Linked DNA regions of Homo sapiens. The protein of the gene in region 1 purifies or fractionates together with the protein of each later gene. This does not show direct contact. Each region holds a gene or a part of one and is shown on either strand. Other genes may lie near its edges. The genes, in order: PXYLP1, WDTC1 and GNPTG.

Region 1 (3,649 bases):
CTCCCGAGAGGTGCCGGTTTCCACCCTCCCCATGATGTTTGGAAGCGTCAGGTTTCTCACACCCTTCCCAATATTGAGTGTTATCATTAAAACATGATTTTCCAGTTTGATGAGGAAAAATTATTAATATAGTCCACTGTTTGATTTATATTTCTTTAATTATGAATAAACAATTATGAAAAACAGTATCACACTGTTGTTTTATCTGTATCTAATTATGAACAAACTTAAGCATCTCTTCATGTGTTTATTGGCCATTGGTATTTATTTTTCTGCGATTAGCCTGTTCATATCCTTTAATGATTTTTCAGGTGTAGGGTCTCTTATGGACTTTGGATATTAATCATTTGTCTGTTAGGTTAGTTGCAAATATTTTTCTCTCAGTGTGTTGCCTTTTATCTTTGTTTATGGCATCTGTTTGCCAAAGGGAAGTTTTAAATATTTATGTAGAAGAATTTGTAGAAGTAATTAGGGAATTTACATTGATTTAGGCTGGTGGTTGGTCCCTGTTTTAGCTATTGTTCGTGCGCATGTGTAGATATTATGGTGATTAATAAATCTTTTAGAAGTTAAAAAGATCTGTGAGCACACTTATTTTCATGTGTTTCCCTCAAAGGGCGGATGCTGAAAGTATGACTATACTGTGTTGGGAGTTCTAGAGGATCTATGATGCTACAAAGACATTCCCTAGGCACGGAGAGATTAGGGACCACTGAGACAGAAGCTGTTCATGAGGGATAGATGGCTGGGCAGCCCCACATTTCCATTCTTACAGATTAGCATCCGAAAGAAAAAGAGCACCTCTTCTAGAGTCTGTATATCACCTGTCTCGAGGAAAGGGAGTCCAGTTGCCCCATTACTACCCTTATTGACTCTGGTCACATGTCCACCCCTGCCAGGGGGTGGGGACACTGTGATTGACAGTCCAGCCTGACCACACGTGGTGGTGAAGGGTCAGCTCACTAATGGAATGAGGGTAGTAGATGGACAAGCACACAGATTGCAAGACCCACACATGCCACGCCGAAGACAGTGGCAGGGAAGCTGGCCTGAAGTCAAGGAGTAAGCGTGAGACAGGCTTTCACCCACCACACATGCCTTGGTCCTTGGCTTTCTTCTGTAAAGTGCTCTCATGGGTTAGATGAGCGACTCTGAAGGCCCACAAAGCATAAAGCAGATGATGATAAATGGGATATGTCAGACACCCACATCTGGCACCTAGCAGGTCTTCAATGAGGAATGATGGTTTTCCTCCTTCTTGTTGTTACTGGAATTAAAGGGCATTAGGAAGAGGTAATCAGGTCCTAAGAAGTTAGTGTGTGAGTTCTTCCTCCAACTGCCCTGAGAGAGGCCCCTTTGCTTGGGAGGCTCCCCTGGTGTTGAATAGATGATAAGGAGAGGGTAGTGGCAGTGACGAAGGGGCAGGACACAGTGGGGCTCAGAAGCCCTTCTTGAATGGGAAGCTGACTTCTGCTCCACTGAAGTGCACCTTGATTCTCAGTGTAAGAATAGCTCCTCAAAGTGAAATCCAGCCCTGCGCTGGGCCTTGCAGCTGGCCTGGCGCCCCAGGAACTGTGCGTCACAACCTGCCTTACTTCGTTTCAGTCCACCTGATCCCGGTGTCGACTCCTAAGAATGGAATGAGTAGCAAGAGTCGAAAGAGAATCATGCCCGACCCTGTGACGGAGCCCCCTGTGACAGACCCCGTTTATGAAGCTCTTTTGTACTGCAACATCCCCAGCGTGGCCGAGCGCAGCATGGAAGGTAGGCCTGACTGTGCCACCAGGACAGATACCCCTTTGGGGACTAGTTATTCCAGCAGCATTGCACAGCAGTAAGGAGCAAGATGGCCAGGACCCAAGTCCTGCAGTTGCCACCAGGCTGTGCCCTTGAATGAGTTCCTGGGTCCTTGCATTCTCCTCTATAAAATGGGAGTAACTCACAGGACTTATGCCTGGGACTGGGGAGGTTTCAGTAACTGCTCTGAACATACCACGTGGCTCACGATCAACCCACCACAAATGTTTGCCATCATCATGATCTTTAGTGAGACAGCAGCAAGGTAGAAAGGTGGCCTTGGCAGGCACTAGTGCAGCACATTGAGACACTCTGCTTTTCAGGGTAGCCTCTTGGGACTCAGGATGTCCACAGGATGTCCTGCTGGCGTCTTGCCATAGAAGTGAGGCAATTTCTACAAGTTTTGCTTTTGTAAAAGTGTATCAGAGCATAGTGTTGAATCCTTATTGATCTCTTTATGCCTTCTCTGGTCTCATGAAAGATTTAAAGCAGAAATCATTGTTTCTAGTATTTCCGTGGCTCTCTCCCTGGTCTGTGCATGTGAGTGAGGCCACATTAGTAGTCATGCCCGCATTTCACCAGCCTCCCGTTGTTTCCAGGAGGTCTGGGACATAATCAGCCTACTCATGTTCCTCTGTCCCGCCTTGTAAGACTATTCAGTGGCCCCCATCCAGAATGGCAGCCAGGGCCCCTTCACTGTGGTGGCTCTGCAAACCCACGGTGGCCCCTGCTGCCTCCGGCTCAGATTCCCAGCCCAAATGTGGCCAGGTCATCCCCTTGGCCCCCTTCTAAAAGGATTGACACCTATTGAGTGATAACCAGACAATGTGCTTCTCTCGCGCAGGTCATGCCCCGCATCATTTTAAGCTGGTCTCAGTGCATGTGTTCATTCGCCACGGAGACAGGTACCCACTGTATGTCATTCCCAAAACAAAGCGACCAGAAATTGACTGCACTCTGGTGGCTAACAGGTAAATTGCACTTTTTCTAAAAGTCATTTTCAAGTGTCTGTTATATCCTGTAGGATAGAGAATGACAGGACCTACACTTGGTGAACCATACTGTTTGCAGGAGCCTGAGCTCAGAGCAGTCCTACATGTGAGTGCCATTATACAGTTGAAAAGATGGAGGCCCACAGAGGCGGGGACACCTGTTTGAAGCAACACAGCAGATATACTGAGCCCAGGCCAGTCTGAGGCTCACCCTCCCACCCTGATGTTTTTCACTTTAATAAACAGTTGGGACACAGTACAGTGAGCACTGAGTTAAGAGTCCTCCGCCCCAGCTCACCTGCTCCATTCAGAGCAGCGGGCAAGCCCCTTAGTGTCCTCTGAGCCTCAGCCTCCTACCTCTGAAACGGGGATCACAAGGCTCCCCATGCAAAGTTGGGGCAAAGAGTAAGTGAGATGACACAGACAAATGCACGTTAGCAATTGCAGAGCCATATAAATGTAAGAATTATTTCACCCTTCTAATTTTTCACTGGAGTAGAGGCAGCCTGTTCTTGGTTGAAAGCCCTTAGGATGAAAAATAATTGAACAGAGTGTGGAAATTGTATGGAAATGGCATGGCTCTAAAATTAGAGGCATAGTTAGCAATAAAATATTGGGCTAGACCTCAGCAAATGTGTCTGGAGGCACATAACATTCTAGCAGAGTTTAGTGAATGAGGTCAGGAGATGAAGTGCTCAGTGGGGAAGACGTTATTTTGATGGAATGCTTCTGGGATGCCAGCCTGCCCCGGGAGGGCGAGCCTGGTGGAGCCATGGATTACCTCACTACAGCCAGGGCTGTTCTTTAAAAGTGACACTTTGTAGCTCGTCTTGCAGGGCCCCTGTCACAGTGATGCCAGG
Region 2 (3,649 bases), on another chromosome or scaffold:
CCATCTCTACAAAAAAAATAGAAAAATTAGCCAAGCATGGTGGAGCGTGTCTGTAGTCCCAGGTATTCAGGAGGCTGAGGTGGGAGAATCGCCTGAGCCCAGGAAGTCAAGGCTGCAGTGAGCCATGATCACGCCACTGCACTCCAACCTCGGCAATAGAATGGAGTGAGACCCTGTCTCAGAAAATAAATTAATTAGCTCCCTCTCCCTCTCCCCCTCCCCCTCCCCACGGTCTCCCTCTCCCTCTCCCCACGGTCTCCCTCTCCCTCTCTTTCCACGGTCTCCCTCTCCCTCTCTTTCCACGGTCTCTCTCTGATGCCGAGCCGAAGCTGGACTGTACTGCTGCCATCTCGGCTCACTGCAATCTCCCTGCCTGATTCTCCTGCCTCAGCCTGCCGAGTGCCTGCGATTGCAGGCGCGTGCCGCCACGCCTGACTGGTTTTCGTATTTTTTTGGTGGAGACGGGGTTTCGCTGTGTTGGCCGGGCCGGTCTCCAGCTCCTAACCGCGAGTGATCCGCCAGCCTCGGCCTCCCGAGGTGCCGGGATTGCAGACGGAGTCTCGTTCACTCAGTGCTCAATGGTGCCCAGGCTGGAGTGCAGTGGCGTGATCTCGGCTTGCTACAACCTCCACCTCCCAGCCGCCTGCCTTGGCCTCCCAAAGTGCCGAGATTGCAGCCTCTGCCTGGCCGCCATCCCGTCTGGGAAGTGAGGAGCGTCTCTGCCTGGCCGCCCATCGTCTGGGATGTGAGGAGCCCCTCTGCCTGGCTGCCCAGTCTGGAAAGTGAGGAGCGTCTCTGCCCGGCCGCCATCCCATCTAGGAAGTGAGGAGCGTCTCTGCCCGGCCGCCCATCGTCTGAGATGTGAGGAGCGCCTCTGCCCGGCCGCGACCCCGTCTGGGAGGTGAAGAGCGTCTCTGCCCAGCCGCCCCGTCTGAGAAGTGAGGAGACCCTCTGCCTGGCAACCACCCCGTCTGAGAACTGAGGAGCCCCTCTGCCCGGCAGCCGCCCCGTCTGAGAAGTGAGGAGCCTCTCCGCCCGGCAACCACCCCGTCTGGGAAGTGAGGAGCCCCTCTGCCCGGCCAGCCGCCCCGTCCGGGAGGTGAGGGGCGCCTCTGCCCGGCCGCCCCTACTGGGAAGTGAGGAGCCCCTCTGCCCAGCCAGCCGCCCCGTCCAGGAGGGAGGTGGGGGGGTCAGCCCCCTGCCCGGCCAGCCGCCCCGTCCGGGAGGGAGGTGGGGGGGTCAGCCCCCCGCCCAGCCAGCCGCCCCGTCCGGGAGGGAGGTGGGGGGGGGGTCAGCCCCCCGCCCGGCCAGCCGCCCCGTCCGGGAGGTGAGGGGTGCCTCTGCCCGGCCACCCCTACTGGGAAGTGAGGAGCCCCTCTGCCTGGCCACCACCCCGTCTGGGAGGTGTACCCAACAGCTCATTGAGAACGGGCCAGGATGACAATGGCGGTTTTGTGGAATAGAAAGGGGGGAAAGGTGGGGAAAAGATTGAGAAATCGGATGGTTGCCGTGTCTGTGTAGAAAGAAGTAGACATGGGAGACTTTTCATTTTGTTCTGTACTAAGAAAAATTCTTCTGCCTTGGGATCCTGTTGATCTGTGACCTTACCCCCAACCCTGTGCTCTCTGAAACATGTGCTGTGTCCACTCAGGGTTAAATGGATTAAGGGCGGTGCAAGATGTGCTTTGTTAAACAGATGCTTGAAGGCAGCATGCTCATTAAGAGTCATCACCACTCCCTAATCTCAAGTACCCAGGGACACAAACACTGCAGAGGGCCGCAGGGTCCTCTGCCTAGGAAAACCAGAGACCTTTGTTCACTTGTTAATCTGCTGACCTTCCCTCCACTATTGTCATATGACCCTGCCAAATCCCCCTCTGCGAGAAACACCCAAGAATGATCAATAAAAAAAAAAATAAATAAATAAAAATTAATTAATTAATAAAAATAACTACAGGTGGCAATTAGAGTTACAGAGGATATAATTGTTAAAACAAGCATAACGTCTGTCTACTTTAGACAGGATGGTCAGAGAAGGTGCTTCTGAAGAGGTAACTGAAGCTGATCTCCTTAGGATAAGAAAGAGTCCGACATGGGAAGAGCTGGGGACAGAGAATCTCAAGTAGAGGAAAGAGTAACGTGAATGCCCAGAGGCAGTAGAGACCCTGGACACCTGAGGTGGTGAGAAAAAGCTTGTGGGCCTAGAGGTAGTACAAAGGAGGGCAAAGAGGGAGGAAGGTGAGGGCGGAGTAAGCAAATGTTCCCAGTGGAGTTTGTACACAGACAACTGCCCTGGGCAGACAAAGGAGGTTGGACCTCTGCTGGAGGGAAAGAGCTAGGTCTGTAGAAGGAAACACTATAGGATGATGGGATGGGGGAGCGACAGGCTCCACTAGATGCCCCAGACTCTTACCGGATAAGCCCATCCTCAGCAGCACTCCAGAATGTGTTGGGCCACATGGGCGCTGTGGCGATGCGCTTCACCCGGTTTGTGTGGTCTCCAAACATGTGGATGGTCTCCTTTACTGTCAGGTCGTGCACATGCACCTTAGAGTCGGCTGCCCCCGTGATCAAGATGCGGTCCCCAGCGTGAGGCAGGAACTATATAGGAGAAATGGAGGAAGGGGTGGGTGGTAAGAGTAGAAATGGCCACGGAAGGAGGCTAGCCTGGATGTCTGCACCCTTTTCTCTCTCCATGTCAGATAAGAGAATGAGCCCATGCAGGCTGGGCGCGGTGGCTCATGCCTGTAATCCCAGCTGCTCAGCAGGCTGAGGCAGGAAAATCCCTTGAACCCAGGAGGCAGAGGCTGCAGGAAGCCAGAGGCTGCAGTGAGCCGAGATTGTGCCACTGCACTCCAGCCTGGGCAACAGAGCGAGACTGTCTCAAAAACAACAACAACAACAAAAAACAAAACAAACCCTTGAGGTTCAGCAGTAATATACAGCAAGATTGTGTTCAAGCCCAAGTCTGTCTGACTCCCACATGCCCTACTTGCCTCATTATGACTACTTAGTAACCTAGAGATTAAGTAATAAATTAGTCCTGAAGTGAAAAAGACTTTGAGTGTTTAAGGGAATGGGTGTGTGTGGGTTTTTTTTGTTTTTTTTTTTTGAGACAGCGTCTCGCTCTGTCACCCAGGCTGGAGTGCAGTGGTGCAATCTCGGCTCACTGCAACTTCCACCTCCCGGGTTCAAGCGATTCTCCTGTGTCAGCCTCCTGAGTAGCTGGGATTACAGGTGTGCACCACCACGCCCAGCTAATTTTTGTATTTTTAGTAGAGACAGGGTTTCACCATGTTGGCCAGGCTGGTCTCGAACTCCTGACCTCAGGTGATCCACCTGCCTTGGCCTCCCAAAGTGCTGGGATTGTAGGCATGAGCCAGAATGCCCTGTTGGGAGTGAGTGTTTTAAATTAGTTTGACTGCTTCTGAAAAACAATCTGGTAATAGTAACAAAGATTAAAAACAATTTCTAGTTTTTGACTCAAAACTTCCACTTCCAAGAAATAATCCAGGCCAGGCGTGGTGGCTCATGCCTATAATCCCAGCACTTTGGGAGGCTGAGGCGGGCAGATCACAAGGTCAGGAGATCCAGACCATCCTGGCTAACACGGTGAAACCCCGTCTCTACTAAAAATATAAAAAAATTA
Region 3 (3,649 bases), on another chromosome or scaffold:
TGCCCCGCTCCCCCAGCCCCGGCACCCACCATTCTGCTGTCTCTGAACTTGGCTATTCATAGACGTCACATAGGTGACTCATAACTGTGTGCGACCTTTTGTGTCTGACCAACTCCTCTTGGCACAGTGTCCCCAAGGTCCCCCAGGCTGGAGGCTCTCAGTGCTTCCTTTTTATATGGCTGAGGACTGTTCCACTGCAAGGACAGACCACGTTGTTGTTTACCCGTCATCTGTCCATGGACACTGGAGTGGCTTCCACCCTCTGCCTGGGAATAGGCTGCTGTGAACTTGGGTGTAAATATTTGAGTCTCTGCTTCCAATTTCTGAGAGTAGCTTTGCTGGATCTTATTAGAATTCCATGTTTAGCTTTTTGAGGAACCACCAAACTGTTTGCATAGTGGCTGCACCGTTTCCCATTCCAGCCAGCATTGCACGAGGGGTCCAGTTTCTCCACATTTTCACCAACACTGTTTTTTGCTAACAGCCATCCTAGTGGGTGTGAAGCGGTACCTTAGGGTTGTTTTAATTTGCATTTCCCTAATGATCAGTCATGTGGGATCTTTTCAGTTGCTTATGGTGTTTGTCCTTTTTTTTTTTTGAGATGGAGTCTCACTCTGTGGCCCAGACTGGAGTACAGTGGCGCCATCTTGGCTCACTGCAAGCTCTGCCTCCCAGGCTCAGGCGATTCTCCTGCCTCAGCCTCTCAAGTAGCTGGGATTACAGGCGTGAGCCACCACACCTGGCTCATTTTTATTTAGTAGAGACGGGGTTTCACCATGTTGGCCAGGCTGGTCTCAAACTCCTGACCTCATGATCCGCCTGCCTCGGCCTCCCGAAGTGCTGGGATTCCCGGCTTCTCTGCCCATTTTTAACTTGAGTTTATTGTTGGGCTGTAGTTCTGTGTTCTGGATGTGAGTCTCTTACATACGTGGTTTGCCAGTGTTTATTTTCTCCCATTCTGTGGGTTGTCTTTTCACTCCCTTGATGGGTTTGTTTTTTTTTCCATATAGAGTCTAACTCTGTAGCCCAGGCTGGAGTGCAGTAGCACGATCTTGGCTCACGGCAACCTCTCCACCTCCCAGGCTCAAGGAATTCTCCTGCCTCAGCCTCCCGAGTAGCTGGGACTGCAGGCATCCGCCATCACGCCTGGCTAATTTTTTTGTACTTTATTAGAGATCAGGTTTCACCATGTTGGCCAGGATGGTCTCGATCTCCTGACTTCGTGATCCGTCTGCCTCGGCCTCCCAAAGCACTGGGATTACAGGCGTGAGACCCTGCGCCCGGCCTCTATGCCAGTCTTTATGCCAGTATCACACTGTTTTGATCATAACAGCTTTGAAGTAATTTTTGGAATCAGTATGTACGAGTCTCTCAACTCTGTCTTTAAGATTTGTTCGATGATTTGGGGTCCTCTGAGACTCCCTATGAACTTTAGGATGTGTTTTTCTATTTCTGCAAAAACTGTCATTGGGGTTTTGATGGGGTTGCATTGAATCTGCAGATCACTCTGGGTGGTATTGTCATCTTAAAAATATTGAATCCATCAGGCTGGGCGCTGGGGCTCACGCCTGTAATCCCAGTACTTTAGGAGGCTGAGGCAGGTGGATCACCTGAGGTCAGGAGTTTGAGACCATCCTGGCCAACATGGAGAAACCCCGTCTCTACAAAAATACAAAAATTAGCCAGCCGTGATGGCAGGCACCGGTAATCCTAGCTACTGGGGAGACTGAGGCGGGAAAATCGGTTGAACCCAGTGGTGGAGATTGTAGTGAGCCAAGATCGTGCCACTGCAATCCAGCCTGGCGACAATGCTAGACTCCGTCTCAAAAAAAAAAAAGTGGCGTATGGATGTCTCATGTCAGCTTTATGTAGTGGGTGGCACTGTTTGTGCGTGGATAATTGTGGTGTCTTGGCACATTGACCCTTTTATCAATGTATAACATCTTTGTCTCTTAAAATAGTTTCAGCCACTTCAGCTCTCTTTTGCCTGTTTATATGAATACTTTTCCATACCTTCACTTTCAACCTGTTTATGTCTTTAAATCTGAAGTTAGTCTTTCAGGCCGGGCATAGTGGCTCACACCTGTAATCCCAGCACTTGGGAGGCCAAGGTGGACGGATCACTTCAGGTCCACAGTTGCAGACCAGCCTGGCCAACACAGTGAAACCCCGCCTCTGCTGAAGATACAAAAATTAGCTGGGCGTGGTGGCGGGCACGTGGGATCCCAGCTACTCGGGAGGCTGAGGCAGGGGAATCACTTGAACCCAGGAGGCGGAGGTTGCAGTGAGCCGAGATCGCGCCACTGCATTTCACCTTGGGTGACAGAGTGAGACTGTCTCCAAAAGAAAAAAAAGAATCTAATGCCTGATGAGCTGAGGTGGAACAGTTTCATCCCCAAACCACCCATCCCCACCCCCGGCTGGTAGAAAAACTGCCTTCCATGAAACCAGTCCCTGGTGCCAAAAAGATTGGGGACCACTGGTTTAAGTCCTGTAGCTTTACAGACCATAGCTAGAAAGGCAACTGGTATTAATTCACCCTGCACGAGGACCTCCGTCTGCCTCCGCTGAGCTGCTGTCTGCTCACTTCCCCGGGTGGCACACCGGCCTGCATGTAACCAACTCCTGAAGCTTTTATCTGGGAATGTCCTCTTTTTTGGGGGGTGGGGAAGACAGGGTCTTGCTCTGTCACGCAGGCTGGAGTGCAGTGGTACGATCTCAGCTCACTGCACTCTCCACCTCCTGGGTTCAAGAGATTCTCCTGCCTCAGCCTCCTGAGTAGCTGGGATTACAGGTGCGCGCCACTACACTCAGCTCATTTTTTCTGTGTGCTTTTTGTGTAGACACGGGGTTCTCACAGTGTTGCCCAGGCTGGTGTCATACTCCTGGCCTCAAGCAATCTTCCCGCCTTGGCCTCCCAAAGTGCTGGGATTACAGGCATGAGCCACGATAGCAAGCCTTAACTCTAATTTTTGAAGGGCTATTTTTAGAATTCTCGGTTTTGTCAGTTTCTTCCATTGAATGGTACCTGTTTTCCTGTTTCTTTGAACGTCTTGTGCTTTTTGTTGAAAACTGGTCCTTGGCCGGGCGCGGTGGCTCAAACCTGTAATCCCAGCACTTTGGGAGGCCGAGGTGGGTGGATCACGAGGTCAGGAGATCGAGACCATCCTGGCTAACGCGGTGAAACCCCGTCTCTACTAAAAATACAAAAAATTAGCCGGGCATGGTGGCGGGCGCCTGTAGTCCCAGCTACTTGGGAGGCTGAGGCAGGAGAATGGCGTGAACATGGGAGGCGGAGCTTGAAGTGAGCCAAGATCATGCCACTGCACTCCAGCCTGGGTGACAGAGTGAGACTCCATCTCAAAAAAAAAGAAAACTGGTCCTTTGAAAACAGACTCTGCCAGTCTTTGCAGACAGGTTCTGTGCTTGGACCCTGGGGATCAGTGTGAGGTCTCTTCCAGGACCCGTGCATCTCTTCCGACTCTCGGGCAAGTGCTTCAGCCTGGTGGAGTCCACGTGAGTGCAGGGTGGGTGCGAGGGTGGGCTGGGGCGCAGCCTGCGGACCCCCCTCATGCCATCTGTGTCCCCAGGTACAAGTATGAGTTCTGCCCGTTCCACAACGTGACCCAGCACGAGCAGACCTTCCGCT

What was found.
Region 2: the proteins of PXYLP1 (region 1) and WDTC1 purify together in Homo sapiens (affinity purification with mass spectrometry; one large-scale study listed by BioGRID and IntAct). This does not show direct contact.
Region 3: the proteins of PXYLP1 (region 1) and GNPTG purify together in Homo sapiens (affinity purification with mass spectrometry; one large-scale study listed by BioGRID and IntAct). This does not show direct contact.

Annotation. Positions count from the first base shown.
Region 1 is NC_000003.12:141,276,737-141,280,385, forward strand, and holds part of PXYLP1 (2-phosphoxylose phosphatase 1), read left to right. Parts: intron 1-1,605; coding exon 1,606-1,764; intron 1,765-2,641; coding exon 2,642-2,768; intron 2,769-3,649. UniProt on the Homo sapiens protein: Responsible for the 2-O-dephosphorylation of xylose in the glycosaminoglycan-protein linkage region of proteoglycans thereby regulating the amount of mature glycosaminoglycan (GAG) chains.
Region 2 is NC_000001.11:27,286,626-27,290,274, reverse strand, and holds part of WDTC1 (WD and tetratricopeptide repeats protein 1), read right to left. Parts: intron 2,602-3,649; coding exon 2,414-2,601; intron 1-2,413. UniProt on the Homo sapiens protein: May function as a substrate receptor for CUL4-DDB1 E3 ubiquitin-protein ligase complex.
Region 3 is NC_000016.10:1,358,282-1,361,930, forward strand, and holds part of GNPTG (N-acetylglucosamine-1-phosphotransferase subunit gamma precursor), read left to right. Parts: intron 1-3,461; coding exon 3,462-3,516; intron 3,517-3,590; coding exon 3,591-3,649. UniProt on the Homo sapiens protein: Non-catalytic subunit of the N-acetylglucosamine-1-phosphotransferase complex, an enzyme that catalyzes the formation of mannose 6-phosphate (M6P) markers on high mannose type oligosaccharides in the Golgi apparatus.